Homo sapiens: one gene and its partners. The protein of the gene in region 2 purifies or fractionates together with the protein of the main gene of each other region. This does not show direct contact. Each region holds a gene or a part of one and is shown on either strand. Other genes may lie near its edges.

Region 1 (3,500 bases), on a different chromosome or scaffold from region 2:
GGGAAGATGTGTGCCTATAACAGCAGAAAAATATTGAATCAACCTAAATATTCAAACATAGGAAAATGTTAATTAGGACACATCCCTGTGCTGAAGTAGATGGAATAATTTGATGCAAGGTAGTTTTGAAGTGAGACCCAGTCTCAAAAAAAAAAAAGAAAAAATGGAATAAAACTAGGAAAACAAGGTAAAATGAAAATAGTTGTTTTAAAGTAGTATTATGGGTAACATCTTTTCATTGTAATTGTTTTTTGAGATTTAAAAACAAGAAAGAAGACCACTTGATATAAAACCTTACTACAGCCACATTAGAGAAAAACGTGATTGTGTGTGTGGTCAACTGGTGGTAAATGGAGTGGTTTGTCAATAACTCCTTCAAGGAGGTTTAGGTGTGTTACACAGGAAGTATCTGAAGTCATGTCTGTTTTGAATCTTATTTTTGAAAATGATACTTAGATTTAAATAAACGCCATGTTCTTTGTTCAGATGTGGGACCATTTTGTTTTTCCTTCCCTTTCTTTTTTTAAGATGGGGTTTCACTATGTTGCCTAGGCTGGACTTGAACTTTTGGTCTCAAGCGATCCTCCCACCTCAGCCTCCTGAGTAGCTGGTACTACAGGCATGCAGCACTGTGCCTGGCTTTATTTTTTCAAATTAAAAAAAAAAATTGTCATGCTTTGTCAAAAAAAAATTCTGAGGAAAAGACATATTCAGTGAAATGCGCCAAAGTGCAAAAATCAAATGTATGTCTTACTTTTGCATGTGTGTGCCAGCCAGATCAAGATTACAGAACATTTTCTTCACTTCAGAAAGTTTCCTTCAATTGTATATATTAAAAGACAAAATAATACCTAGTGGGCATAGACAAGAACAAGAAGTTTGTAATTTGAAGAAAATGTCTATCTTCTATTTCAGGAATGGGATGGTCTAGTAAGGATAACCTTTGTTAGGAAAAACAAGACACTCTCTGCTGCATTTAAGTAAGTATTACACTAATTTCTAATGTATAAAGGGCCAGTGCTCCAGATACTATGCTAGAATTTGGTCCTTTTCCTGAGCAGCTACCCTAAAGCATAAAGATTATGGGTCCAGACAAACTTCACCTTTTAAACTATCTTTAGAGCTTGGGAGGCTCTAAAGCAAACTTAATGAAGAAAGTTTGCTGGAGTTGAGAGTCAGATCACATTTTTTGGCAAAACAGGAAAACACTCCCAAACTCTGACCATATATCTGCTCTAGTTTTTTGTTGGAAAAATGAGGTGATGATGGACCCCTTCCACACTTGTGAAGGATATGTGTCATGTAATTAACCTGGGAAAATGCAGCTCATCAATTTGGGGTTCAAGGGTAAAAGAGAGGTGAGACACAGTTTTACAGGGCTTGGAGATTTTTTTTTAGGGGATTTTTTGTGGAGAGTCTAGAACTTCTCTAAGAATTTAAGAGGTATTAGGATTTTGCACTTTAAATATATTTAGTGTTTGCTTCATAAGTTTAAATATTCAACAACTTTTAAAATTCCTTAATTTCACCATACAGAATATAGATTTAATTTCATCTAAAATGAAATTATTGCTTAAATGGCTTATGTATTAGTTAAAAAAAAGTTTAAAAAAGTAAGAAATTACTCTGACTTTGGAATAATAACAGTGGCATCACTTCTTTATGCTATAGATCAAGTGCAGTGCAACAACTCTTGGAAAAAAACTACAGAATTCACTGTTCAGTCCATAATATTGTAAGTTAGAAAATGTTCCTGCAGTTTCATTGATTTGTTTTCTTTTAAAATGTCCATTTTTATTCTTGTTGATCTAGCATGAGATTATTTTGTACATTCCATAAGATCCTTAAAAGACAATATATAATGTATAACTAGCACAATTTTGACTTGAATTCTGACAGGTCAGTGCTGCTGTGTATCCTGTGAAACAGATATGAGCAACTTTGATTACTCCACCCTGTCCTCTAACTACTGACAGTTGTTTTTAGCCATAACAAGAATCAGATTCAGCAGTTACAGGTTCCTCAAAGCTGTAGATATGTGTAGCTTGCACAACTTAAAATAATTGTGTAGTTTACTGTCCTCTGAATTGTGACCACGTCTTGTTTCTTGCTCACATAGCAGTTACAAATATAGTTATTACTTTCTTTGTATAGAAATTGAAATAAAGTTCATATGGCTCAATAGCAGATTTCTGGTTGTGAGCCTCATGCGTATCATTTGTGTAACAGTGTGTGCGATGTGATGTTTGCTATCTTTTTAGCTTCCAGTTTAATTAGAACAGAGAGAGAAAGGCCAATTTTCTTTTTATTTTTTATGACTCAGAACCTATATGGTTTAATGTATCACAATACTATCTCCATTTTCTCTTTTATGGGCAAAAAGTCATTAGATAATCTGCCTAAGTATAATAGAAAAATATTAAGCTAGATTAAGAAAAATATTTGGATAAAATATGTGAATTAAGTGTAAAATCCTTTTGGATAAAATATGTGAATTAAGTGTAAAATCCTTAATATTCCCAAGGCTTGGGCAGGTCACCTCTTTGAGAAAAATGAGGTGGTTAAGGTCAAATCTGTAGGAAGAAAATGCATTATTTTGAAAGGAGTAACAATTGCTTTAAAATTTAATTTACAGTTGTAATTATTTGTGAAGTCTGAAACTAATAACTATTTCAGAATTTTAAAGAAGAAAATGGCTAATATAGACAGGATTACTAATTCAAGGTATTCCAAGTTTTTGTTAATAAAGATCAGCCACTTTTAATTAGAGATCCAAGTCTTAATGTAAAAATCAGGCTTTCCAAAGTCTCATTAACAGATATATTAAAGGTGACTATTTTATGACTTACTGAACTAAAAAAAAGAGTCAAGGTGACCTCATTAAAGATATGTCGTTCATTTATTCTGAATCTTATATTGATAGATAATACCAGAAGATTTCAGCATAGCAGATAAAATACAGCAAATCCTAACCAGCACAGGTTTTAGTGACAAACGGGCCCGTTCCATGGACATAGATGACTTCATCAGGTAATTACATTTTTGTTTTCCTAAGTGTTTACATTTCTTTACTGTGACACCTTCAGATTGGAGATTTTAAAGGCTTTTAAGCGGTATAAGGTGCTACCTGGGAGAGTTATTGCATAGCACTTCCATGGCATGGAATAGTATTTGGTGTAGAAGATGGAGGCTAGTTAGCTGCAGCAGAATGAACATTTTCTTTAAGAACAGTAGTAAAGAACAGTCCGAGCCAGAAGATTGCCTTTGTGTTAATGTGGTGTGCAGGTTCCAATGTGGTGTGCAGGTTCCTCCCTTCCTGCTCCTTCCCCAACTCTCATTCATAGTCTTAGTCTTAATAGCTTATCCCTCCAAAATAGTCCATAAGGTAGAAAAATCATAATACATGTAACTGGATCTGATTTTTAAAATTTCCTTACTGGGAATAGCTGTTGTTAAATCAATCTTAAGCATACAATAATGCCAGTTAGAATCCTACCTGG
Region 2 (3,500 bases):
TTTTTTTTTTAAATGTTCACAAACTGGACTTATCAGTGAGTATTGTCATTAGTAGTAATAATAAATGCTTACACTAACACTGTTGATTCTGTGGTCTCCTTCAGTTCACAACTGGTAATCTCCCACATCTATTCCATTTCTAAGCTTTGAATTTAATTGCCTGAAATTATACTGTACCATAAAATTACCATGAGCCATATTTGCATCGTAGTTTGCTACAGTTTGTACTGGGCATGGTAACTTTTCTTAAACTCTTAAAAACATTAAGAATTGCTGTTTAAGCTTAAACTTCACAGTTAAGGTCTTGAAAGTTAAGAATTTGAATAAGAGAAACAAAAATTCTAGCTGAGGTTTGAACTTTATATCAATAGAAAATACTATTGCCTATTGGAGGTGCTGACACATAAGCATCTAAAGATCAGGAAGACTAGTCTGGACAGGATTCTTGATCCAGAAGTTTGCCTAGACAGCATCTTTCACATCCTCAAAGGTGATCTAGACGTTTTTTTTTTTTCAACTTTAATTATGAAGGGGAAAAAAGGATACTTGGCATCAGGCTGTCCTTTCTTTCCGTAAGCCCATTCTGGTTCAATCTCCAGTCGAGCCTTTTCTCCTTTACTCATAGTCAAGAGAGCTTCATCCCACTAAAGGCAAGAACAAAATAAAAACTAATGGTATTTTGCAAAAAGCACATGCAATACCAGGACAGTCAAGACAAGATTGTATGTTAAAACAAACACAGAATCTATTACTATAGATTTCACTATATTCTAAGATAATGTACTTCAGTGAGTCCCTAAATCTTTGTCTTCCATTTCTTCAATAGAAAAAAAAGGGTATTTTAAGCAGGGCTTTTTTAATGTGAAAAGAACCTTTTGGGGCTCATACCTATAATCCCAGCACTTTGGGAGGCCGAGGTGGGCAGATCACTTAAGGTCAGGAGTTTGAGACCAGCCTAGCTAACATAGTGAAACCCCATCTTCTACTAAAAATAAAAAAATTAGCTGGGTGCGGTGGTGGGTGCCTGTAATCCCAGCTACTCGGGAGGCTGAGGCAGGGGAATCACTTGAACCCAGAAGGTGGAGGTTGCAGTGAGCCAGGATTGAGCCACTGCACTCCAGTCTGGGCAACAGAGTGAGACTCCTTCTCAAACAAACAAACAAAAAACAAAAAAAAAACTTTTTGTAAACTGTAACATGCCATACATTATGAAAACCAGTTAGTTATTAGCACCATCATAAACCTGCAACACTTTTACATCACAGGACAAACGAGTTTATTTTTATTGGAATACACTGGCAAGTACTCACTGTAAAATTGTTTTAAGATTACCAGATTGTAATAGTGGAGTCACGTTGGCACATAAAATACATTTTTTTCTTTTTTTCTTTTGAGATGGAGTTTCGCTCTTGTTGCCCTGGCTGGAGTGCAATAGCGTGATCTTGGCTCACTGCAGCCTCTGCCTCCCGGGTTTAACCGATTCTCCTGCCTCAGCCTCCCTAGTAGTTGGGATTACAGGCATGCCCAGCTAATTTTGGAAATACAATTTTTAAAATGTTACGGCACTAAGATCTTTTGCAAAAGGTAAAACTAACTTTTCAAAGAAACAATAAAAGTCTTCTGGGTTGGCCTCTCCATATTTTCCAAATTTGGATCTTAAAGCTAGTTTCCACAAACAGTTAAATCCACATCACCAAAGGGATAATATTCCTAATATTATATGCTGTATTGAAATGCAACAATCATATAAAGCACAAGGGACAAAGTTAGGGTGGTCACATTTGGAAAATAAGAATATGGTAGACTAGCCGGGCAAGGTGGCTCGTGCCTGTAATCCCAGCACTTTGGGAGGCTGAAGATGAAGAGGGCGATCACTTGAGGTCAGCACTCAAGACCAGCCTGACCAACATGATGAAACCCCATCTCTACTAGGAATGCAAAATTAGGTGTGGTGGCGCATGCCTGTAATCCCAGCTATTCGGGAGGCTGAGGCAGGAGAATCGCTTGAACTCAGGAGACAGAGGTTGCAGTAAGCCGAGATTGCACCATTGTACTCCAGCCTGGACAACAAGAGCAAAACTCCGTCTCAAAAAAAAAGAATACGGTAGACTAGAAGAAATTTACCAGTATGCAAATAAGTTACAGAAATAGAAAAATGGCCCAATTTGATAATATACTTGCTATCAACTTGGTACGGGCAGGTAACAATTTTTTTTTTTTTTTTGAGATGGAGTCTTGCTCTGTTGCCCAGGCTGGAGTGCAGTGGCGTGATCTCAGCTCACTACAACCTCCACCTCCCAGGTTCAAGCAATTCTCCTGCCTCAGCCTCCCAAGTAGCTGGGACTACAGGCAAGTGCCACCATGCCCAGATAATTTTTTGTATTTTTAGTAGAGACGGGTTTCACAGTGTTAGCCAGTATGGTCTCGATCTCCTGACCGACCTTGTGATCCACCCACCTCGGCCTCCCAAATTGCTGCAATTACAGGCATGAGCCACCACGCCTGGCTGGGGCAGGTAACAATTATAAGTTATGCTCAACTAAACCTTTAGTTTTAAGATGTTTTATATTCTGTATATGATTGTCTGAACCATATCTTAGGACCTACTGATTGTACAGAGAGTAATATATTGAAGGTTCCTATAACTGCATTTAAATAGGCATTTCAGTTATTGATGTCTGATGTTCTGAGAATAACAATTTAAAACAAACAATGGGCACAATGGGCAGGCCTTAGCATGAAAACCTGATTCATAGAAGGTGACAGTCTGCCCTACTCTTTTATCTTCTTTTGTACAGTATAATGGTCAGTACGGGTCAAGCCTAACTTCCTCTTTTCTCAAAGTTTCTTTCTGTTATCTCTCACATATAAGTGTAGGTTAAAGCATGCTCATGTTTGAATGATTTTCTGGTATTGCAGCCTATGTTGTATGAGGTGAAAAGGCTGCAGAAACAAACTCTGCTTCTGTGAATACTTCAGTGGGACAGATATTTTACCTTTGCAAATTATATGTAAATGGTACAACAGTTATAAGACATTTTACAGGAACCTTAAATTTAGAGGGCCAAACATTCTGACAAAGACTTACTTTATGAAGAAAAATAATAAAATGGGTACACATGGAAGGGACTAATATTTAAGCCCCTACTGTATTAGGTACTTCAAGTTATGCTCATTTAATCTTCTAAAAACCTTGAGGTAGGCAGTACTGTCCTCATTTTATATGTAGCGAAACTGAGACCGAGATAACTTGTGCAAGATCAGCTAACAATGATTATACCCAATCTGTCAGACTCCAAAGTCTGTTTCCTTTGTATTATATCCCCAAACCTAATTCTTTACAGCACCATACCAGAAGCAGCATATGCCAGAATATCTACTGATTCATTGGCATTCTTTACTTACTCCTCTGATAACTTTGCCTACTCCGACCTTAAAACTTAAAGGCTTGGCATTTTTCTTCTTCTTTGCACCTGTAAAACAGATTTTCCTTATCATTA
Region 3 (3,500 bases), on a different chromosome or scaffold from region 2:
GGCTCACACCTATAATCCCAGCACTTTGGAAGGCTGAGGTGGGTGGATCACCTGAGGTCAGGAGTTCGAGACCAGCCTGACCAGTATGGTGACACCCCATCTCTACTAAAAATACAAAAATTAGCTGGTTGTGGTGGCAAGCGCCTATAACCCCAGCTACTTGGGAGACTGAGGTTGGAGAATTGCTTGAACTCAGGAGGCAGAGGTTGCAGTGAGCTGAGATCGTGCCACTACACTTCAGCCTGGGCAATAGAGGGAGATTCCATCTCAAAAAAGAGAGAGAGAGAGAGGGAGGGAGGGAGGGAGGGGGAGAGGGAGGGAGAGAGAGAGAGAAAGGAAAGAGAAAGCTAAATGTGATAAGGGCGAGAGAGAGAGAAAGGGAAAAGAAGGAAAGAAAGGAAAGAAAGTTAAATGTGATAAGGGCTGGCAACACTGGAGGGTCTCTGCCTCTCAAGACTCAGCCTTGTTCACAGTTCAGTCCTGCCTCAGGGGCCTTGGCTGGTGCTGTACCCTGGTCCGGGTTGGCCCTCACCGGCCCCCACCCCGGCTCTGGCTCCTTGCCACCCCCCTCTCACAGTACTGATGTTTAAAACACATACGGGCCCTGGGGGACAGAGCAGGGTCAGGATCCCAGAAACAGCCCTACTTCAGCCCCGGCCCTTATGCTGCCCCACCCCTAGCTGAGTCCTGCCTCAGGACCTTTGCTCCGGATGTACCCTCGTCCACGTTCGCCCTCATTGGCCCTCCTCGAGCTCTGGCTCTCTGTCTGAAAAATAAATGTGGCCGGATGGGTGCAGTGGGTCAAGTCTGTAATCCCAGCACTTTGGGAGGCCGAGGCAGGCGGATCACCTGAGGTCAGGAGTTTGAGACCAGCCTGACCCACATGTTAAAACCCCGTCTCTACTAAAAATTGAAAAAATTAATGGGGCGTGGTGGCGTGTGCCTGTAATCCCAGCTACTCGGGAGGCTGAGGCAGGAGAATTGCTTGAACCCAGGAGGCGGAGGTTGCAGTGAGCCCAGGTTGCACTGTTGCACGCCAGCCTGGGCAACAAGAGCAAAACTCCGTCTCAAAAAAAAAGAAAAGAAAAAGGCCGGGCGCGGTGGCTCACGCCTGTAATCCCAGCACTTTGGGAGGCCGAGGCAGGCGGATCACGAGGTCAGGATATGGAGACTATCCTGGCTTACACGGTGAAACCCTGTCTCTACTAAAAATACAAAAACTTAGCCGGGTGTGGTGGCGGGCACCTGTAGTCCTGGCTACTCGGGAGGCTGAGGCAGGAGAATGGCGTGAACCCGGGAGGAGGAGCGGAGCTTGCAGTGAGCAGAGATTGCACCACTGCCCTCCAGCCTGGGCGACAGAGCGAGACTCCGTCTCACAAAAAAAAGAAGAAAATGGTGGCATCACTCCCAGGGGTGACAGCTGCAAACCAGGCCCTGCGCACGATGGGGCCCTCTGGTTACTGCCTCTCTTAGGCCAGCTGGGGTGGTTTGAGTTTCTCTTTCTTGCCTGGTCCTGACCTGCAGCTCTGCCGTGCGCCTGTTAATCTCCATATGATCCCTGGGTGGGTTCCCAGAGGGGTTCATGTTCCCTGAGGGTCACACGGGGAGGCAGGATTTGACTCCGGGACGGCCTGATTCCCCCACAGGCCAGCGGAGCCTGCACCACCGTGGAGACAACCTGGAGACCCTGGTCCTCCTGAACCCATCAGACAAGTCCCTGTATGATGAGGTAGGGAATGGCTGACGTCCTGGAGGGGGCGGGCTGCTGGGACCCGTGCCTTCTCTGTCTTCCTGTCTCGTGTCCTTGTCTTCATGCTGCCCCAGATCCTCTCAAGACACCCGGCACCACACTTCTTCGCCCACGAAGCCTTCCCTGTGGCTTCAGCCTCCGCTTCTTCCCTCCTCTGGGGTGGGAGCAGAAAAGCCTGGACTTTGGGAGGGAGGGGAGGGTAAGCACTCCCAGCTCAGGGCCCAGGACAGCGTGGGTCTGGAGGTGGGAAGGCCAGAGCAGACAGGTTTTCCTCCTGTGGGTTCCCTCCGGCTAGGCCCCAGGAGTTGTCTGAATCGACTCACTAACATTAACCAGCTTGTGGCCATCTGTACTCTACCAATTATACATCCGGAAGATGAACCAGACAGAGCCCTGGGGCATCCCACTACAGACCTTCTTACAGGTTGATTCCTTGGATCAACTTTTCCCTTTTGTTCCCTTGAGGGGCTCTCAGTCTTTAAGAGACAGAGTGAGACACAGACACCCCCAGCCCTGTGGCATCAGGGCTGGGCTGGAGGGAGAGGTGGACTAGAGAGAGCCCAGAAAGGGCAAGTAGTGCCTTCAGGAGGAAGGGACATCAGAGCTGGGCTTTGTAGGATGAATAGGAGTTTGCTAGGGTTGCTCCAGGGCCCAGCAGGAGACCTGGAGACTGCCTTCGTAGCTAGTTGAGCACTGGGCTGGTCGTGGGGTGAGGACAGGAGAGGGGTGGTTATGTATCGACTCGAGGCTACCCCAAAGAGGACTGCTGGATACGTCACTGCACAGAACGGGTCCTTTAGTGTTCACCCCCTCCCTCAGCTCCGGAACCTTCTGTTGGACCCTGCCTCTCACAAGCTACTGGTGTTGGCTGGGCCCTGCCTGGAGGAGACGGGGGAGCTGCTGCTACAGACAGGGGGCTTCTCGCCTCACCACTTCCTCCAGGTCCTGAAGGACAGAGAGGTAAGCCACCCCTTTGCCATCCCCTGCTTCCCCAGCTCTGAATCCTGACTGGGGTGTATCAGGCTGTGTGGCACCAGCGACCTGCTGTTTTCCATGGCCTGGTCTCCCCATCCTCTGTAGGATGGCAGTGGTGACACATGCCTCCTGGCTGTCTGGGGTCAGTCCCATTGCCCGCGAAAGGGTGTGGTGTGAGCTGAGTTTGTAGGTCAGCAGATGTCCCAAAGTCCTGATGAGGGATGGAGCCAAATGGGTCCTTCCTGGTGCCCGCAGTCTGGGTAGGACACATGGGCAAAATGGCAAACCTCACTTTCACATTGTAGTGGGGCACTTAAAAATGGTGAGAAAAGGTTCAGTAGACAGGTGGGGCGTGGAGAGTCTCCTTGGAGGGAGCTGTGCCCTGGGAGGAGAGAATGGTGAGTGTAAAGGCCCTGGGGCAGGGAGGCATTTGAAGGGGAGGGAGAGACAGGAGGTGAGGCCAGATCAAAGAGCCTTGTGGCGCTGGAGAGGGTTGGGTTTTGGCGGGAGGGCCCTGAGGAGCAGGCCCTGGGGGAAAGGATGAGGGTGTCCTCGCCCAGTTTTCCCACCGGGCTAGGTGTTGCCTGGCTCTAGGTGGTCCCTTACCACTCCTCCTCCATACAGATCCGGGACATCCTGGCCACCACGCCCCCACCTGTGCAGCCGCCCATACTCACCATCACCTGCCCCACCTTCGGTGACTGGGCTCAGCTGGCACCCGCTGTGCCTGGCCTTCAGGGGGCGCTCCGGCTCCAGCTGCGGCTGAACCCCCCGG
Region 4 (3,500 bases), on a different chromosome or scaffold from region 2:
ATCTAAATATAGGACACCTCAAACTCAATGTGACCAAAGCTGAACTCATTATTTTAATGAAAATAAAATTCATTAAAACCTTTTCCTGGCCAGGCACGGTGGCTCATGCCTGTAATCCCAGCACTTTGGGAGGCCGAGGTGGGCAGATCACGAGGTCCTGAGATCGAGACCATTCTAGCTAACATGGTGAAACCCTGTCTCTACTAAAAATACAAAAACTTAGCCGGGCATGGTGGAAAATGCCTGTAGTCCCAGCTACACAGGAAGCTGAGGCAGGAGAATCACTTGAACCCGGGAGAGGTTGAACCCTGGCGGAGGTTGTAGTGAGCCAAGATCGTGCCACTGCACTCCAGCCTGGGTGGCAGCGTGAGACTCTGTCTCAAAAAAAAAACACCTGTTCCTTGTCTCCTATTCCTTTTCCTACTTAATGGCATAACTATCTACCTAGCTACCCAAGCAAAAAGTAGAGAGGATCACTAGACTTTAAAGTTCTGGAAGTCAGGGCCTGAGCTGTCTTTTCAATTCTGTACCTCCGTGTTTAATATATAACCTGGTACTTACATCAAAACAAAATTTAAAACATATATATATTGAATATCAGATAATATAAATATTACCTGGTACATAATAGATTCTCAGTAAGTACTGACTATGAGGCATTTAAGAGTCTCAATCTGCTCTTTCTGATATCTTTACAGAGTTCGTCTTGGATCATTGTGGACATCAGCTCCATAACAACAACACTTAGTGCTATCCTCTCAACCTTTTTCACACAGCAATAGAGTACTCCTACATTCCTTAAAGAAGGCAGTCTTCAGCCAACGAGTTCTAGTCACCCTCTCTCATTCTCATAACGCTGACAAATCATGGGGATCAAATCTCCTAAAAGTTTTATGAGTTCACAGCTCACTTTGTCATAGCTCACCTTCAAATCCAACACGCTCAAGCAGGTTCAATGGGTACCAAATTAAAGGTTTGTTCCCAACTGGAAGCAGAGGTTTGGGAATGCTGGAAGTTAGGTCTGTCATCCGAGATCCTCCACCTACTGCCATCACTACTGCTTGAAATTCCATTTTTACAAACTGCAAGTACAGAAAAAACAATTAACAGAAAAAAAACAATGTAACAAAAATCAAAGCACACATACTACTAGCCTATTTTTATTTAGGTTACTGATACCCACTATGTCAAATGCATAATTCCTAACTCTAGCAATCACAGTAAGAAAAGCTTAGCTGCAGATAAACATTATGTCTACCAATATGTATTCTCAGTTCTATCCTTGGTAAAAGTGGGAGGATAGGAATGCAGGGGCTTTGCCCTTGAGTTATTCACAATTAAGTGGAGAAGACAAATTCAGTAAATCACAATATATGTCATTAGTGCCACAGCAGAAAAATATCCAAGATACAGTGGGCATACAATAAAAGGAACACCTAGTTTTCATTGAAAACACAGAGAAGTTTTTATAGAAAGTGATGCTTGAGCTGACTCTGAAGAAGTAAGAGTTTACCAAGTGGACTTCTGATGTGTGAATTTTTATTCTTTGAAAATATTAGGCTGGGTGAGGTGGCTCACATCTGTAATCCCAGCACTTTGGGAGGCTGAGGTGTGTGGATCACATGAGCTCAGGAGTTCGAGACCAGCCTGGGCAACATGGCGAGACCCCATCTCTACCAAAAATACAAAAAATTAGCCAGGGGTGGTGGCTTGTGCCTATGGTTCCAGCTACTTGGGAAGCTGAAGTGGGAGGATCATTTGAGCCTGGGAGGCAGGTGTTGCAGTGAGCCGAGATTGAGATTGGACCACTGCACTCCAACCTGTGTGACAGAGTGAGATCCTGTCTCAAAAAAAAAAAAAAAAAAAGAGAGAAAAAAGAAAATATTAAAAGATGCCTGACTAGAATTAACAGCAGAAACACAAGCATGTTAGGCTTCTGAAAAGTATGAAATGACTTAAGACTCCTCCAATAATTCAGCCATCGGCTCATCTTATTCCTCCAATTTTTAAAGATATCACTATAAACACAAACGTAGGCTTGTATCTGAACCTAGATTTACAGAACACAATTATAAAAACAAACCAAACTGTTAATTCCTTTTTTCAAACTCAAGGTAATAAACAAACCTATTTGACTTTGAAAAGAATCTCTTTACAGAAACTACCACAGAACAGAGGCACAGTAGAAGGTCATAAATCTTTATTTATGTATTTATTTTTGGAGATGGAATTTCACTCTTGTTGCCAGGCTGGAGTGCAATGCCGTGATCTCGGCTCACTGCAACCTCCACCTCCCAAGTTCAAGCGATTCTCCTGCCTCAGCCTCCCGAGTAGCTGGGATCACAGGCATGGGCCACCATGCCTGGCTAATTTTGTATTTTTAGTAGAGATGGGGTTTCACCATGTTGGCCAGGCTGGTCCCAAACTCCTGACCTCAGGTGATCCACCGGAGTCGGCCTCCCAAAGTGCTGGGATTACAGGTGTGAGCCACGTGCCCATCCTATTTATTTATTGTTTATTTAGAGACAGAGTCTTGCTCCATTGCCCAGTCTGGAAGTGCAGTGGTAAGATCATGGCTCACTGCAGCCTCAACCTCCTGCACTAAAGCAATCCTCCTGCCCCAACCTCTGGAGCAGCTGGGACTACAGGTGGGTACCACCATGCCTGGCTTTTTTTTTTTTTTTGAGACGGAGTTTCTCTCTTGTTGCCCAGGCTGAAGTGCAGTGGCACGATCTCAGCTCACCACAACCTCTGCCTCCCAGGTTCAAGTGATTCTCCTGCCTCAGCCTCCCAAAGAGCTGGGATTATAGGCATGCACCACCACGCCCAGCTGCCCAGCTAATTTTGTATTTTTAGTAGAGACAGGGTTTCTCCACATTGGTCAGGCTGGTCTCGAACTCCCAACCTCAGGTGATCTGCCCACCTTGGCCTCCCAAAGTGCTGGGATTACAGGTATGAGCCACTGCACCTGGCCGCCTGGCTAATTCTTTTAATTAATTTTTTATAGAGATGGGGTTTCACTATGCTGCCCAGGCTGGTCTCAAACTCCTGGCCTCAGGCCTCCTGCCTGGGCCTCCCAAAGTGCTGAGATTAGAGGCATGAGCCACTGCACCTGACCGATCTTTACTGATTTAAACTGAAAGTACTTTCTCTTACAATGATGTAATTTTAAGAACAAATGTGTTAAAATGTAACGTTCAGAAGAAACAATCTATTCAACATCAAATTGCCAAATAATGTTGCAACTTTACTATAATTATTATTACTCCTGGGCCCAGCACATCAACATCTAAAGTGCAGCACTTAACACCTACTATACCCAAGGCACAAAGTGAAGGCTCCTGCATAACATTCACAATGTAAAGATATGGTCATGTAGATTCTAGCAAGCATTGCCTCAAAGTGTAATTTAATTTCATTTTGGTATTATATAACATCCACCACATCAAATGTTATTATGAAAAGAGCACTGGACCCTTAAGAGTCAAAAGATGAGCTGG
Region 5 (3,500 bases), on a different chromosome or scaffold from region 2:
AAGGGCAAGCCTTGCTCACTCAGGCCTTACCTCACCAAGCCAGCCGTCTTGCCTTTTGCTCTGGCCTGTGCATAAAGAGCTCGGCCCACAGTTTTCTCCTTAATAGAGCTCCTAAATGTCTTGCCGTCCACAGTCCTAGAAAATGACAGAAGGTAACCAGTTGGTCAGAATAGTAATCTTTTTTTTTTTTCCCCTCGAGATGGAGTCTTGCTCTGTCACCCAGGCTGGAGTGCAATGGTGCAATCTCAGTTCAGTGCAACCTCCACCTCCTGGGTTCAAGCAATTCTCCTGCTTCAGCCCCCTGAGTAGCTGGGATTATAGGCGTCTGCCACCAGGCCAGGCTAATTTTTTGTATTTTTAGTAGAGATTGGGTTTCGCCATGTTGGCCAGGATGGTCTCGATCTCCTGACCTCATGATCCACCTGGCTTGGCCTCCCAAAGTGCTGGGATTACAGGTGTGAGCCACCGCGCCTGGCCCAGAATAGTAATCTTAGCAAAACAAACAAGAGCGAGCAAACAACCCAACAAGGCTAATTTAATGAATGAGGGCAATGATCATTTTGTGTCTATAAGAAATAAGAAGGGAGGCATTCAAATAGTTTATGGACAGGACTTCCTTTATTGATTGGATAGTGTGGCTTGAGAGGGGTTTGGTAGGCTCCCATCCTAAAACCTTTCCCTCATGTACTGTTGTTTGTTTATAGATTTTTCCTCATCTTTGAATTTCATCCTTTAGATTAAGGATGGTTCTCTTTGGGTATCCCCTTTGAATGACAAATGTGATTAGGGGAGGTGACTGATAAATTCCGAATTATCTCATTACTGGTTCATCAGGTCATTCTGTGAGCTAAGAATTTGGCATCGCTGTGGGGTATGCAATGGACCGAATGTTTATGTTCCCCGCAAATGTGCATGTTGAACCTTACTTCCTAGGACGATGACATTACGAGGTGGGGCCTTGGAGAGGGCTCTCTCCTCATGAATAGCATTTAGTGCTGTCATAAAAAACAGACTTCGAAGAGCTCTCTCATCTCTTTCCATCTTGACTGAACCAGGAAATGGGCCCTCACCAGACACGAAATCCTTGGGCATCTTGATCTCGGACTTCCCGGCCTTCAGAACTATGAATTTTAAATTTCTGTTGTTTATAATCTACCCATTTTATGGTACTTAGTCATAGCAGCCGGAGCTGATGAAGACAGAATATTATGCTCCTCTGCAAGGGTGGAAAAGAATAAAGAAAAAGGGGGAAGGTGCTGGTGGGTCCCCTGCCAAGGTGGTGTTTATCTGGAAACCATCTCCCTTGGGGACCTCTGTCTTCTATTTGCATCTCATCTCTATACACCTTACCTTTAGCTGGCTAGCACCTAATCCTTACCAAGTAATGGTTGGTCAGAGTGGTAGAATCCAGAATTTTGGAAGTACATGGGAACTTCCAGTACTCAAATGGGCAGTGTCTTTCCCAAGGAGCAATTTGGAAATGTGTGAAGTTTGGGTTGTTGAGATGACTTGGAAGTGCTGCTGGCATTTGTGGGAGGACACCACGAATGTTAGTCATCCTGCAATATGAGGGACAGCTCCACTGAAGAATTTTCCTGCCCCAAATGCCAACAGCACGTGTGTTGAGGCACACTTGTGGGTTTGCCCCTTTAGATGAGAGACATCAGACCCCAGGAGACAGGTGACTCTTGCCAAGGTCACACTGCTGGTCAAGGCCATCATGCTTCTATCGAATCAGAACTAAGTCTCAAAGGCCAAGGGGTCTTTAGGACAAAGGAAATCATCTCCCATAGAATATTCAAGATCTTGATAAAAAGGTAAAAGGGATATTTTGGCTAGTACATAGGTCTACACAGCTCATTTTAAGTTGTGATAATTAAGCAGGTATCTTCTCTGGTCTTATAGATTCAGCTCAGAGCAGAGGGAGATAAAAGTAAATGCATGTTTCACGATTCTGTCCTTTGTACTTCAAATCTTCTATGTAATGAGATAGTAAAGAAAGAACAGAATGAAGGACGGAATAGTATGCAGCCATAAAAAGGAATAAGATCATGTCCTTTGCAGGGACATGGTTGAAGCTGTAAGCCATCTTCCTCAGCAAACTAACACAGGAACAGAAAATCAAACACTGTATGTTCTCACTCATAAGTGGGAGTTGAACAATGAGAACACATGGACACAGGGAGGGGAATATTACACACCGTGTCCTGTCGGGCGGTAGGGGGCAAGGGGAGGGAGAGCATTAGGACAAACAGCTAACGCATGTGGGGCTTAAAACCTAGATGATGGGATGATAGGTGCAGCAAACCACCATGGCACATGTGTACCTATGTAACAAACCTATACATTCTGCACACGTATCCCAGAACTTAAAGTAAAAAAGAAAAAAAAAAAAGAAGGAAAACAGAAATAAGAGATCTTTTGAGTAAATTCTGATTGTGTGGTTTAAAAATAGGAATTTATTAAAATAGTTTTCAATGTCATTTCTAGACATGGGGTCATATAATACCAGTACAGAAAAGCCTTTCCTTCTCCCTTTGCTTTTTAGAAAAGGCAGACAAAAAAAGTGATACATTTTAAAGCCAATTCAAAGGATACCAATTAAAGTGACACAATGCCTTTTTCTGCCTATTTGGTTAGAGTTCACATGACTGCCACTTTCGGCAGCCAAAGTACATGGTGGTTGAACCCTTTACTATTTATCCACAATGATCACTGATTACCTTGGTGTATGAAAGACAAAAGTGGATGAGAAGTAATTCAACCTAATGTCTTCATAAAAAAAAAATAGCCAGACTTTATGCACAGTACTTTGCTGTGTTCTTGGCAACTTAAGAGGGACATTGACCACCTGGAACATACTCTGGGTTGGCCACCTTGATATTTGGACATAGAAATCATTCCAATCACTTAGAGGAACAGAGAATATTTAACTTTGATACATGAAGGCTCCAAGTGGATAACTGGTATTAACTGTTTGGAAAGTATTGGAGTAGTTTAACCTTCTTTTATTACGAAAAATTTCAAACACACAGAAAATAGAGGGAATAATATGAGATGTCCATGAAACCATCACTGAGCTACACCATTATGAATACTCAGCCAATCTTAATTTGTCTGTACTCTCATGCTTTCCACCTTAGTTGTTAAGAAGCCAAGTTCAAGGCCAGGCACGGTGGCTCACGCCTGTAATCCCAACACTTTGGGAGGCCGAGGCGGGCAGATCACGAGGTCAAGAGATCGAGACCATCCTGGCTAACACGGTGAAACTCCGTCTCTACTAAAAATACGAAAATTAGCCAGGCATGGTGGCGGGTGCCTGTAGTCCCAGCTACTCAGGAGGCTGAGGCAGGAGAATGGTGTGAACCCGGGAGGCGGAGCTTGCAGTGAGCCGAGATCACGCCACTGCACTCCAGCCTGGGCGACAGAGCGAGACTCCATCTCAAAAAAAAAAGAAGCCAAGCTCAGATGGCACATCATTTCATCTATGAACACTTCAA
Region 6 (3,500 bases), on a different chromosome or scaffold from region 2:
ATCTCTCTGTGTCTCATCTCTGTCTCTGTGTCTCTCATCTTTGTCTCTCATCTTGGTCTGTGTGTCTCTGTCTCTCATCTCTGTCTGTGTCTGTCTGTCTCCCCTGCCCGTGCTCTCTTGCCCTCTGCCTTCCACCATGGGATGACACAGCAAAAAGCCCCAGCCAGATGCAGGCCCCTTGACCTCGGACTTCCCATCCCAGCCCGCAGAACTGGGAGAAGTCCCTGCTCTTTGTTTTTTTGAGACGGAGTCTCGCTCTGTCGCCTGGGCTGGAGTGCAATAGTGCAATCTCCACTCACTGCAACCTCCACCTCCCAGGTTCAAGGGATTCTCCTGCTTCAGCCTCCCAAGTAGCTGAGATTACAGGCACCCACCACCATGCCCAACCAATTTTTGTATTTTTTTAGTAGAGACAGGGTTTCACCATGTTGGCCAGACTGGTCTCGAACTCCTGACCTCGTGATCCGCCCGCCTCAGCCTCCCAAAGCACTGGGATTACAGGCCTGAGCCACCGTGCCCGGCCGTCCCTGCCCTTTCTACACTACTCAGTCTCAAGTCTCTGTTAGAGCAGCATAACGTGGACTAAGACAGCAAACCCCAGACAAGGCCTGAGTCAGCAAGGAAGAGCCCAGGGTCTGTGTCACAGTGGGTACCGCAAGGCTAAAGAGGCCCCATCTCCCATGGGACCCACAGCAGGCTAAAGAGGCCCCATCTCCCAGGGGACCTGCAGCTCTACTCTTGAAGGTGCCCATTTGGACCCTTCCTCTTCTTCCTGGCTTGCAACAACCCCTCCCCCGTCAAGGCCCCCAGGAGGAAGTGGGCCTGTCACCACCTGGGGTGGGGCACTGGGGCAGGGGATCTCTCTCCCTCCCCTTTGCTCCATTCTCTGAGCACCTGAGGGGTCCCAAGCCCCTCGCCAGTTAGGATGAAATAAAGACAGCTCTTACATCACCTTTTTGTGGGAAAGCACAAAGTTGAACTCCCTCTCCCTTTCCTAGTAAAATAAACTACAAACAAAAGTAAAAGTGAAAACGAGGCTGGGAGTGGTGGCTCACACCTGTCATCCCAACACTTTGGGAGGCCGAGGCGGGCGGATCATGAAGTCAGGAGTTCGAGACCAGCCCAACCAACATGGAGAAACCCCGTCTCTACTAAAAATACAAAAATTAGCCTGGCACGGTGGCACGCGCCTGTAATCCCAGCTACTCAGGAGGGTGAGGCACGAGAAATCACTTGAACCTAGGAGGCAGAGGCTGCAGTGAGCTGAGGTTGCACCACTGCACTCCAGCCTGGGCGACAGAGCAAGACTCCATCTCAAAAAAAAAAAAAAAAAAAAGGTGAAAACAAAGCTAGCAAAGTTGGAGGTGGGCTGGGGAGACAAGGCAGCTCCTGGGGGCCCTGGGGCCCGCACCCTGGGCAGGACTGCATACGGCAGCTGCCGCAGGGAAGACACAGCCAGGCACCGCCCGTCAGGACTTACCCAGCCCGGGCAGCAGGCGGAGGAGCGCGTTCTTGTTCCTCTGCTTGGTGATGTGCAGGACGTAGTACAGCCCCACCTCGCAGGCCATGCGCTGCTCCTGCAGAAACCTGCGCCCGGGGCGCCATCAGCCCCACCTCAGCCCCACCTCAGCCCCACCTCAGCCCCACACCGACCCCTGCCCAGCCCTGAGGCAGCCCCCTGGGCAACAGTGCCATCCCTGCGCCACGGCCACCCCTGCACCATGGCCCTACAGCCCGTACTTAGTGAAGCTTTCGGGAAGTGTGTTTGGATATGAGACTGGGGCTTTCTCCTCAGCCGGAAGTTTCTGATCCACATTGAAAGTGTAGTCATCCACCAGGAAGGACATGAGCATCGGGAGGAACCTGGTGATGAGCTCTACCTCCTACGAGGAGGGGAGGCCATGAGCGGGCGCGGGCCCGGGCCCTGCCCCACCCCACCCTGACGTGACACACACCCTGCCCCTGGCCCTCCCACTCCCCCAGATACCTCACCGACCCTCCCTCCTCTCCAGGTCCCCAGGTCCCTCTTCCCACCTCCCGAGTCCCCCACCCAGGCCATCTCCTCAAACCCCCTTCTAGGTCTGGACCCACATGGAGTAGTCACCACCTGTGGCCAGCCATGGTCCATGGAGACACCCCCAGAACAAGCCACGGTCCACGGAGACACCCCAGAACCAGCCACGGGCCATGGAGATACCCCAGAACCAGCCAGGGTCCACGGAGACACCCCAGAACCTCCCTGGTGGGCATTTTCCCAAAAGGAAGGTGGGCAGCTCCAGGAAGGAAGCTTTGGGACCAAAGGGGCCTCCACAATCACCTTGCTAGCGCCTCCCCCTCCACCCCACTTCCAGCCCACAACCCCTCGTAGGAAACTGGCAGCCCCCACAGGAGGCTCGTTACCATCTTGGGCTCCTTGAAGACCTGGCTGTCGATCATGTCCCAGGCTCCCTGGCCCAGCGCCAGCAGCCGGAGCAGCAGCAGGAGGTCGGGGCTGTCCTGTAGGGAGGACGGGCTCAGCGCCTCTCCCAGGCAGCTGTGTCCTGGCCATGGAGCTCCTCTGACCCTACTCGTTACTCAGCAGGATCTCTGGTGCCCATGGCCAGGACCACACGACTGCGATCACCAGCCCCACACACGGGGTGAAACGCAGTCTCACAGCGGGGAAGCACACGCCTCTACCTGGGCCACTGCAGTCCACATCCCCGACCACCAGAGCAGCCAGCAGGGCGGCCACAGGGCCCCAACAGCTGCCTCCACCTGGCCGCTGCTGTCCACACCCTGACCACCCAGAGCAGCCAGCGGAGTGGCCGCATGGCCCCGACAGCTGCTGGCCAAGCCCACACTCACCCTGGGCAGTGTCTCCTGGCCGACCAGCTCCTGCAGGTGCCTGACTGTGCTCAGTGCCAGCGTGTTGATGGCGAAGGGGTCACACAGGATCATGGACAGGTCCCTGGAAGGAGGCCGCCCTGGCATTAATGCGACGCCTGTTGCCCCTCCCTTCAGCGGCACAGTCCTCAGGAGGGGTGGCCTAGGCTGAATTCAGGACTGGCAGCGGGTGCCCATCACATGCTGGGTTTCTTACAAAAAGCTTAAGGATGGCCGAGCGCGGCGGCTCAGCCTGTCATCCCAGCACTTTGGCAGGCCGGGCGCGGCGGCTCAGCCTGTCATCCCAGCACTTTGGCAGGCCGAGGCGGATGGATCACCAGGTCAGGAGACTGAGACCAGCCTGGCTAACAAAGTGAAACCCTGTCTCTACCAAAAATACAAAAAATTAGCCGGGCGTGGTGGTGGTCGCCTGTGGTCCCAGCTACTCGGGAGGCTGAGGCAGGAGAATCACTTGAACCCGGGAGGCAGAGCTTGCAGTGAGCCAGGATCGCGTCACTGCACTCCAGCCTGGGCAAGAGAGCGAGACTCTGTCTCAAAAAAAAAAAAAAAAAAAGCTTAAGGTTTGCAATTTGTCCTTAACCTATTCAAAGATTTTTCAAATTAAAAAGTTAAAA
Region 7 (3,500 bases), on a different chromosome or scaffold from region 2:
GAGGAAGCTCCATCACTTTGTGGCTAAGCTATGTCCCCTCCTCTACTTGTGCACTGGCTTTCTGGACCAAATGGCAGGATTTTACATCCATCATCTTTCTAATGTGACTCATCATGATTGCCTGACAGGATCTTTTTGGGATTTGATACCAACTTAAACATTTTTGCTGCTACTCCAAATTCCAGGTTATTATAAATTTCATAGGCATGGCTTCCATCACTTCATTCAAACCAACAGAAGAAGCCAACTGAGTACCTACTCTTGCTCTATCAAATCCCCACTTCTCCCCTCTGTTCACTCCACTCCCCTAGCCAAAAATGCTAGAGGTTCTTTGTAGGCAAGAGGAAATCATAAAGTAGTCTAAGGTTGTTAAGAGGTTCTTGAGTCCATCAGCTAATCTCAACTTCAACAAAATCCCTGAAATGGTATAAAAATATTATGCACTTAGCGTGTGTATATATGTGCTATAACGTTCTCTAGATTCTAAAGGGCTCTATCTGTATCCTAAAAGATTAATCACTGATAGTGGTTACACATTCAACCAACTTCTGGGCACAATGGCCCATAACTGTTATCTCAGCAACTTGAGGGGCTAAGGTGGGAGGAGTGCTTGAAGCCAAATATTTGAGACCAGCCTGGGCAACATAGCAAGATCCCGCCTCTACAGAAAAATTTAAAAATTAGCCAGGCGTGTTGGTGCATATCTAGCCCTTTAACTACTACTAATAATTTACTAGAACCAGCTGGGTGCAGTAGCTCATGCCTATAATCCTAGCACTTTGGGAGGCCGAGATGGGTGGATCACCTGAGGTCAGAAGTTCGAGACCAGCCTGGCCAACATGGTGAAACCCCATCTCCACCAAAAATAACAAAAAATTAGCCAGGCGTGGTGGTGGGTGCCTGTAATCCCAGCCACTCAGGAGGCTGAGGCAGGAGAATTGCTTGAACCTGAGAGGCGGAGGTTGCAGTGAGCTGAGATCGTGCCACTGCACTCCAGGCTGGGTGACAGAGCAAGACTCCGTCTCAAAAACAAACAAAAATAAATTTAAAAAAATAATTTACTAGAACCAAATAGCTAAGATTCTTCAGAAATTACTTGTTGCAATGTAATGCGTTACAAACACTCATCTTCTATAGTAGCGGCTGTCAAATTCAGGCATGCATTTGCAGCACCTAGAGGGTTTATTAAAATACAGATTGCTGGGCTCTATCCCAGAGTCCCTGATTCAGTAGGTATAGGGTAGAGCCTGAGAACTATTTTTTTTTTTTTTGAGACAGAGTTTCACCCTGTTGCCCAGGCTGGAGTGCAGTGGACGCAATCTCAGCTCACTGCAACCTCTGCCTCCAGGGTTCAAGTGATTCTCTTGCCTCAGCCTCCCAAGTAGCTGGGATTACAGGCAGGCCTGCACCATGACCCGCTAATTTTTGTATTTTTAATAGAGATGGGGTTTCACCATGTTGGTCAGGCTGGTCTTGAACTCCTCACCTCAGGTGATCCACCTGCCTCGGCCTCCCAAAGTGCTGGGATTACAAGCGTGAGCCACCGCGTCCAGCCTGAGCCTCAGAATTTGCATTTCTAACAAGTTCCCAGATGCTGCTGCCACTGCTGGTCCTGGGACACATTTGACAACCATTGCTCCAAAGTTCTGTGGTTGCCATGGTGCGCCACTGCTACCAGCAGGTATGTTAGAGTAGAAAAAGAGGTTGAAAACCAAATTCTAGACTAATTCATAACAATTTAAATAACATGTTGATGTCTTAAAGGTTATAGACTTGGATAAAACAAAAACCGCAAAATAAGATGAAACAAAAAATCACACAACATGTGATTAATGTTATTAAAACTTCTATACAAATAAAATTGCTAACACATTTTATACCTAAACTTGCATTAGTCTTCTAAGACATCCTCTTTGGAGAGGGCAATACAGAAAACATTCATAGATACATGTACATTCTGCATAACAGTTTTAAAAGCCTCTAGGGACTGGTCTAATAACACTATTAACAAGTTGTCTCTTTCCAACTTAAACGTTGCACACTGGTAAAAAGAAAGGAGGCCAGGTGGGGTGGCTCACGCCTGTAATCCCAGCGCTTTGGGAGGGCGAGGCAGGTAGATTGCTCGAGTCCAGGTGTTCAAGACCAGCCTGGGCAACATAGCGAAACCCCGTCTCTACAAAAAATACAAAAAATTAGCTGGGCTTGGTGTCACAGGCCTGCAGTCCCAGTTCTTCAGGAGGATGAGGCAGGAAGATCACTTGAGCCCAGGAGGCAGAGGTTGTAGTGAGCTGAAATCACACCACTGCACTCCAGCCTCGGCAACAGAATGAGACTCTGTCTCAAAATAATAATAAATAATAATAATAATAATAATAATAATAATAAGTAAAATAAAAAATTTAAAAAAAAAGAAGAAAGGAGGCATGGCTTCAAGGTGGGAAACATCACAGGTAAATTTGAGAACAAATAATAGGATACACACTCCACCTTTCAGAAGGGTAGAATCTATTAAAAGAAAATATTCAACTATAACAAAATATGACAAGTTTCTCTTACTATTCTTATCAGGTGTAAACTGCATATCCTACAGAGCACTTAGGAAACTGTCTTGCTGTCAGTAGACACGCACACACTTCTTAAATTTTACACTGGACATGTAATTAGATGCTTAAATTTAGCAGGTGACTATAAATTAGAATAATTTAACAAATAACTTCTAGAACAGGTCTAGAAGCAGTAGATTATATATCTTAAAATTATTTTATCAAATTGGGACATCTTACATATTATCAGTACTTTTTCTAGATGGGGAAATGCTTGTAATTTAGTATTTTAAAAAACCCAGTAGAACACAAAAGTGTAATTACACAGCATGTTCCCAATTTTGTGGGGAAAACTACATACACGTGTGTATTTTTTTTTTAAACGGAACAAATATTCATTGGGTCTTTACTGGGTAGTAGGATTACCAATGACTTTCACCTTTTCAGTCTCTTCTACAACTAAACACTATGAGGAGAGTCATCTGTTCCACGCTGTATCTTGAGCATTTTGTCTAGTCCCTGGTATATAACAGGGGATCTGTACCTATTGATCAATATTTACGTGAATGGTCCCAACCCTCATAGTGAAATTCAACTTCTCCACAACCAAAAAGCTATTATTCCTTCAACTCCTGACCCAAATGCCATCCTTTCAGAAGTTCTTTTCAGGTCAATGTGGCAATTTAATCCTTTTCCTTCTCCTAACATTTTGTACTGTTCTCCTGACTTTCTTCTTACCCTACCCTGCGTTGTACCAGAGGGCTTTGCAGCTGTTAAGTGTTCATATTATTGTTTACCTGATAGAGTTCATGAGACCATTGGAGATATTTTGTTCAGTTTAATTCTTCACTTGTAATTGTCAAATACATTTATTTCACTCCATAATACATTGGTACCCAATCTGGATAATACTGGTGTTTAACAGTGTACCACTCACCAGTGATTTGCTTTGCAGGA

What was found.
Region 1: the proteins of FKBP3 (region 2) and DIMT1 fractionate together in Homo sapiens (co-fractionation; one large-scale study listed by BioGRID). This does not show direct contact.
Region 3: the proteins of FKBP3 (region 2) and MAP1S fractionate together in Homo sapiens (co-fractionation; one large-scale study listed by BioGRID). This does not show direct contact.
Region 4: the proteins of FKBP3 (region 2) and EIF2B3 fractionate together in Homo sapiens (co-fractionation; one large-scale study listed by BioGRID). This does not show direct contact.
Region 5: the proteins of FKBP3 (region 2) and ITIH2 fractionate together in Homo sapiens (co-fractionation; one large-scale study listed by BioGRID). This does not show direct contact.
Region 6: the proteins of FKBP3 (region 2) and NELFB fractionate together in Homo sapiens (co-fractionation; one large-scale study listed by BioGRID). This does not show direct contact.
Region 7: the proteins of FKBP3 (region 2) and MYH10 fractionate together in Homo sapiens (co-fractionation; one large-scale study listed by BioGRID). This does not show direct contact.

Annotation. Positions count from the first base shown.
Region 1 is NC_000005.10:62,390,406-62,393,905, reverse strand, and holds part of DIMT1 (dimethyladenosine transferase), read left to right. Parts: intron 1-915; coding exon 916-980; intron 981-1,671; coding exon 1,672-1,735; intron 1,736-1,899; coding exon of another isoform or gene 1,900-1,935; exon of another isoform or gene 1,936-2,187; intron 2,188-2,880; exon of another isoform or gene 2,881-2,923; coding exon 2,924-3,030; exon of another isoform or gene 3,031-3,500. UniProt on the Homo sapiens protein: Specifically dimethylates two adjacent adenosines in the loop of a conserved hairpin near the 3'-end of 18S rRNA in the 40S particle.
Region 2 is NC_000014.9:45,117,482-45,120,981, forward strand, and holds part of FKBP3 (peptidyl-prolyl cis-trans isomerase FKBP3), read right to left. Parts: intron 3,474-3,500; coding exon 3,406-3,473; intron 645-3,405; coding exon 547-644; intron 1-546. UniProt on the Homo sapiens protein: FK506- and rapamycin-binding proteins (FKBPs) constitute a family of receptors for the two immunosuppressants which inhibit T-cell proliferation by arresting two distinct cytoplasmic signal transmission pathways. PPIases accelerate the folding of proteins.
Region 3 is NC_000019.10:17,722,480-17,725,979, forward strand, and holds part of MAP1S (microtubule-associated protein 1S), read left to right. Parts: intron 1-1,646; coding exon 1,647-1,729; intron 1,730-2,569; coding exon 2,570-2,710; intron 2,711-3,349; coding exon 3,350-3,500. UniProt on the Homo sapiens protein: Microtubule-associated protein that mediates aggregation of mitochondria resulting in cell death and genomic destruction (MAGD). Plays a role in anchoring the microtubule organizing center to the centrosomes. Binds to DNA. Plays a role in apoptosis.
Region 4 is NC_000001.11:44,980,096-44,983,595, forward strand, and holds part of EIF2B3 (translation initiation factor eIF2B subunit gamma), read right to left. Parts: intron 1,083-3,500; 5' UTR 1,074-1,082; coding exon 926-1,073; intron 1-925. UniProt on the Homo sapiens protein: Acts as a component of the translation initiation factor 2B (eIF2B) complex, which catalyzes the exchange of GDP for GTP on the eukaryotic initiation factor 2 (eIF2) complex gamma subunit.
Region 5 is NC_000010.11:7,709,816-7,713,315, reverse strand, and holds part of ITIH2 (inter-alpha-trypsin inhibitor heavy chain H2 precursor), read right to left. Parts: intron 136-3,500; coding exon 31-135; intron 1-30. UniProt on the Homo sapiens protein: May act as a carrier of hyaluronan in serum or as a binding protein between hyaluronan and other matrix protein, including those on cell surfaces in tissues to regulate the localization, synthesis and degradation of hyaluronan which are essential to cells undergoing biological processes.
Region 6 is NC_000009.12:137,265,327-137,268,826, reverse strand, and holds part of NELFB (negative elongation factor B), read right to left. Parts: intron 2,951-3,500; coding exon 2,848-2,950; intron 2,497-2,847; coding exon 2,401-2,496; intron 1,884-2,400; coding exon 1,741-1,883; intron 1,588-1,740; coding exon 1,481-1,587; intron 1-1,480. UniProt on the Homo sapiens protein: Essential component of the NELF complex, a complex that negatively regulates the elongation of transcription by RNA polymerase II.
Region 7 is NC_000017.11:8,624,226-8,627,725, forward strand, and holds part of MYH10 (myosin-10), read right to left. Parts: intron 1-3,500. UniProt on the Homo sapiens protein: Cellular myosin that appears to play a role in cytokinesis, cell shape, and specialized functions such as secretion and capping. Involved with LARP6 in the stabilization of type I collagen mRNAs for CO1A1 and CO1A2.